Linked DNA regions of Homo sapiens: region 1 is linked to region 2. Evidence: fine-mapped QTL for protein levels in blood plasma. A gene starts in region 2. The other region holds a variant in brackets. All regions are shown on one strand. Distances are between the middles of the regions.

Region 1 (2,914 bases), 270 kb after region 2:
TATATAAATAGTCATACATCACTTAACCGTGAGGATAAATATTGAGAAATGCTTCATTAGGTTATTTCATCCTTGTGCAAAGAACATCATAGAGTGCACTTATGCAAACCTAGATGGTATAACCCACTACACACCCTATTGCTATACCATAGACATATATATGGTATAGCCTATTGCTTCTAGGCTACAAGCCTATACAGCATGTTACCATACTGAATACTATGGGCAATTATAACACAATGGGAAGTGTGTGTGTAATTAAACATATCTAAGTTGGCTGGGCACAGTGTCTCACGCCTGTAATCCCAGCACTTTAGGAGCCTGAGGCAGGTGGATCGCCTGAGTCAGGAGTTCAAGACCAGCCTGGCCAACATGGCGAAACACCATCTCTACTAAAAATACAAAAATTAGTCAGGTGTGGTGGCACGCACCTGTAATCCCAGCTACTCGGAAGGCTGAGGCAAGAGAATCACTTGAACCCAGGAAGCGGAGGTTGCAGTGAGCCGAGATTGCGCCACTGCACTCCAGCCTGGGCGACAGAGCAAGACCCTGTCTCCCAGATAAATAAATAATAAATAAACATATCTAAGCATAGAAAAGGTACAGTAAAAATATGGTATAAAAGATACAATTGTACACCTCTATAGGGCATTTACCATGAATGGAGCTTGCAAGACTGAAGTTGCTCTAAGTGCATCAGTGGGTGAGTGGTGACTGAATGTGAAGGCCTAGGACATTACTGTACACTACTGTCGACTTCATAAACACTGGACACTAAGGCTGCACTAAATGTATGAAAAGTATCTTTTTTCTTAAAAAATAAATTTAGTTCACTGTAACTTTTTTACTTTATAAACTTAAAAAATTTTAAAAACCTATTGACTGTTTTGTAATACATAGCTTAAAACACAAACAAATTGTACAGCTCCACAAAACTATTTTCCTTCTTTATATGCTTATTCTATAAGCTTTTTTGATTCTGAAGGTTTTTGTTTTTATTTTTTAAACTTTTAAATTAAAAACTAGGACACAAACACACACATTGGCCTAGGCCCACACAGGATCAGGATCATCAATATCATCATATTCCAGGTCCACCCACATCTCATGCCACTGGAAGGTCTTCGGCGGCAATACATACATGGAGCTGTCAACTCCTATGATAACAATGCCTTCTTCAGGAATACCTCCTGAAGGACCTGCTTGAGGATGTTTTACAGTTAACTTTAAAAATGTAAATAAGAAGGCTGGGTGTGGTGGCTCACAGCTGTAATCTTAGCACATTGGGAGGCTGAAGTAGGAGGATCCCTTGAGGCCAGTTCAAGAGCAGCCTGGGCAAGAAAGCAAGACTCTCATCTCTACAAAAAAGTGAAAAAAGAAGGCCAGGCGCAGTGGCTCACGCCTGTAATCCCAGTACTTTGGGAGGCCGAGGTGGGCGGGTCACCTGAGGTCGGGAGTTCGAGACCAGCTTGACCAACATAGAGGAACCCCGTCTCTACTAAAAATACAAAATTAGCTGGGCGTGGTGGCTCATGCCTGTAATCCCAGCTACTCGGGAGGCTGAGGCAGGAGAATCGCTTGAACCCGGGATTCGGAGGTTGCGGTGAGCCAAGATCATGCCATTGCACTCCAGCCTGGGCAACAAGAGTGAAACTCTGTCTCAAAAAAAAAAAAAAAAAA[AG/G]AAAAGAAACAATAAAACAAATAAATAAATAAGAAAAGAAAAAGAATGAGAGAGGACTACCGCTATCAAAGATACAATCTTTATAAATAATAATTAAAGCAGTATAGTGTTGTTGTATGAATAGATAGACAACTAGCCGGATAGACTAGAAAGCCTAGAATACATCCAAAATACACACAGGAATTAAGTATATGATAATAGTCGCATCTTACACCAGAGGAGATAAGATAGACTGTTTCAAGAGAGTTGACGGGAAAACTGGGTACCCATATGATAGAAAGCAACAACAGCAACAAGTTAGATCTATTCCTCTCTCTCTTCACCAGGTAATTTTTTTTCTTTTTTGGTCTCTAATTCCTGGTGATAAGATAGGGGAATTTTTAAAAGATAGACAGGACTCTGGTGATGCTGCCTGGCTAGATTCCAACTCCTGGGTTTAAGCAATTCTCTCGACTCAGCCTCCTTAGTAGCTGAAACTACAGGTACATGCCACCACATACAGCTCAGGATAATTTCTACAAGGATCAAAGATTCAAATAAAAAAGTAAAGATGTTGGCCGGGCACAGTGGCTCACATCTGTAATCCCCGCACCTCGGGAGGCCGAGGCGGACGGATCACCTGAGGTCAGGAGTTCGAGACCAGCCTGGTCAACATGGTGAAACCCCGTCTCTACCAAAAATATAAAAATTAGCCAGGCGTGGTGGCACGCGCCTGTAGCCCCAGCTACTCGGGAGGCTGAGGCAGGAGAATCGCTTGAACTCGGGAGCTGGAGGTTGCAGTGAGCCGAGATCACGCCACTGCATTCCAGCCTTGGCAACAGAGCAAGACTCTGTCTAAAAAAAAAAAAAAAAAAAAGTAAAGACACTAAAAGAAAACATAGGAAAATTCCTTTATTTTGAGGGCATGGAAAAGGCCTACCTAATTATGACTCAAAACTCAGATAAATTTCACTTTTTTTAAACTATCAGATTAGCAAGACCCTAACATGTTATCTGTCGGCAGAGAGTCAGTGGAGGGGGCATGGCAGTCTCAGGAGAATAAGGAATATAAGTTGGTGCAATACCTATAGAAGATAATTTGGAAACATCAAAATTAAAAATACATGTGCTCTTTGTCCCAACAATTCCATTTCTGAGAATTTACAATAGCACCTTTACCTTTAAGTATGAAATGACAAATGCATAAACTTATTCATTGTGGCATTGTTCACAACGACAAATAATTAGAAAGAA
Region 2 (2,914 bases):
TGGAGAAAGTAGAAAAGGTTTTGAGACAGACATTTATGAAAGTGTTTTTCATTTTGTTTTGTTTTGTTGTTTGTTTGTTTTTTGAGTGGGTCCCAGTAAGGCATCCAAAATAACCAAAGAAAACCCAAAATGACTGGCTGGGTGCTGTGGCTCACGCCTGTAATCCCAGCACTTTGGGAGGCTGAGGTGGGCAGATCACCTGAGGCCAGGAGTTTGAGACTAGCCTGGCCAACATAGTGGAACCCTGTCTCTACTAAAAATACAAAAATTAGCCAGGCGTGGTGGTGTGTGCCTGTTGTCCCAGCTACTCAGGAGCCTGAGGTGGGAGAATCGTTTGAACTCAGGAGGCAGAGGTTGCAGTGAGCCAAGATCATGCCATTGCACTCCAGCCTGGGTGACAGTGAGACTCCGTCTCAAAAATAAATAAGTAAATAAATAAAATAAAATAAAAATAATAAAATAAAATAAAATAAAAATTTTAAAAAGGAAACCAAAAATGACTTCACTATGCCATCCCATTTAGCCTCTTTAATCTCCTCCAATGGAAACAGCAGAACAAAATGTTCCATATCACTGAAGCAGAGCGAACTCACCTACAATTGAAAACATTAACCTGAGCTTCCTTTAATGGGCATTAAAATGTGTGAATATGGATATCCATTCAGAAAAGTCAAACATTTACAAAGGAAAAGGAGAGTCTGCAATAAATGGAATTTTGGTCATCTGTTTCATCTCTAATAAATATGAAATGAACAAATGCTACACGTGCAGACTGATCCCTAAATCCTAAATTCTGCTCTGTAAGAGTTATTAGAAATCTGAAACCACAAGCAACTTTCTGAAGACATTTAAAGAAGCATTAAAGTGTGACTTTGGGGTCAGGGTCGATATTTAGGAGTACTTCTTTCTTAGATATACATATAGATATATTTATTTATTCGTTTACTGCTAGGCAATGGAAAAGGCACAGAGTAAAGAGAAAGAAGCCACTAGTTAGCAAAAGATCAACTGCTTTCTTCACACTGAACTCCTCTTAACTACTCTGACCCACAAAAGTGAATCAAAAAAATCTGTTTAACTTTCCAAGAAAGGAGGGATAACTGTTAAGTCCTTTCAACTTTCCAAAGTAGCAGCAGCTTCACTCCTGAAAGCAGATTAAAGTTGCCATCTAAACTCACATGCTTTCCCGCAAAGAGCCCAGGCCAAGGAACTTCCTTTTTCACCTTGCAGCTGTAGAGATTTGCTGCTTGCTCATCTATAACTTCAAAGACAAGAACAAGAAAACAACCAATCATACTACAAAATTATTTCAAACTTCACCACATCTCACAGGCAGGAAGGTTCTTTCAGATCCACAGTGAAAATAGGAAATGTTTCATCAGCTGAAAGGCAGCTGCAAGCAGATCAAGAGAGGTTTTACAAAAGAAGCAAAAGGTAAAGGGTTATCCTTTATTTTACAAAGGAGCTCTCTAGCAACCCAGTTCATATAAAAGTTAAACTTAGAGAAGAAAATAGAATCTCTATAGGCGGCAGAAGAAAAGAAAATTGTTTCCTCCTATTTACGGTGCAAGTGACTGTGCCTCTATTAGCCCCTCTAAGGGTCGCCAAAGCAGAGCGTCTTTCCTGTCCGTGGATAGCAGAGGCAAGGCGTGTTGCTCTGAGATTTTTTAAAGATCCCAGGATCTCCCAGAGCTGGCTTCCCCACCTCATCTCTTTGCTTTCAGCCAAGCAAACGTCATGCCTTCATACTCATTCTGGTTGCCAGAAGTCTTGTGGTCTGTTCTTCCCATATTTCTCCCAATTCTTTAGAATTGGAATTGATGTTGACATTGAGGTTACAAGGGATTGGAAGGGAAGTGGTTGCATCAAGGATACTCCAAGGGCAGAGTTTAATGAAAATTTAATTCAGAATGGATCCCAAGAGACGGAATAAAACAGTCTAATTGAGTTAACCTAGAAAAACAAGTCCTGCCAAAGAAGGGTCTAATTCAGCTTGTTTCAGAAATTCCGGGTGAGTTAAGGAGTAGTTGGTGGAGAAGCTAAACTCTTGATGGGCAGATTGCTGAGGCCCAGCCCACCTTATTAGTAAAATCTCTTTGGGACCTTTTTTTGCAGGAATATTGGTCTCATAATTTTCAGATTTCAGTCAAAGGGCTGTACTTACACAGACTCAAAAACTATGACGCTGCAGTTCTTTTCTTCTCCTTACTTAGTTGGTTTTCCTTGGATCAACTAGAATTTACAAGGTTATGTGAAAGCTGATCACACAAACTGGGTCATTCTTGTCATACCCAACTAAATCAGAGTCTAGGGACCAGGAGGGAAGAAGCACTTGGGGCACAGCACCTGCTCCATGAATTAAATTTTTCACAAGCCCAGCTGCTAAAATGGCCTGCTGTAACCCCAAGACTAGTTTAGTAGCTGCTGAAACATGACTTTAAGAATAGTTTTGCCTACCACCATCACTCACCAATCAGAGTTTGCCAGCTCCCAAATGCTTCTTTTTTCTCTTTTTTTCCCTTCTTTCCAAATGATTCTTTAGTGCCAATGAGCTTTCTTTCAAAACAGTATAGAACATTTCTCTAATAAAACTCCCAACCTTCTTTCTGTTCCTCAGACACACTGAAGACCACCTGGTTAGTGTGTATGCCTCAAACTGCAATCCTTGCTTCCAAAATAGAATGCTTTAAAGTTAGAGATTCATCGCTATGTTTTATTTTGACTTCAACAGTCACAATGTATTGCTTCCTGGATAATGTGGAGCTTAGAGGCTCTGCAGAAGAAAGTAGGTTAATATGGGGCCCTGCAATAAACATTGTCTGTTTTCGTGGTGATGGGTGCAGAAGAGTGGGATAGGGGATGGCACACCCCTACATTATCCTTATTTCTAGGAACCAATTTCTTTTGGTGATTT

What was found. PIP is the chance, under the fine-mapping model, that this variant and not a neighbour inherited with it causes the effect. Sun 2018 read protein levels with aptamers (SomaScan).
Region 1: its variant is fine-mapped to the plasma level of the ASIP protein (Sun 2018, PIP 0.95).

What each region holds. Positions count from the first base shown.
Region 1 is chr20:33,973,037-33,975,950 of GRCh38, reverse strand. No RefSeq gene overlaps it. Among named protein-coding and RNA genes, the nearest start is that of RALY, 19 kb to the left of the region's middle. The variant AG/G (reference allele first, on the strand shown) is at 1,681.
Region 2 is chr20:34,239,754-34,242,667 of GRCh38, reverse strand. ASIP (agouti signaling protein) reads right to left here and starts at 1,245. Exons shown (of 4, transcript NM_001672.3): 1 at 1,179-1,245. It also overlaps a transcript of AHCY not described here. RefSeq lists enhancers at 1-153, 1,207-1,356, 1,377-1,446.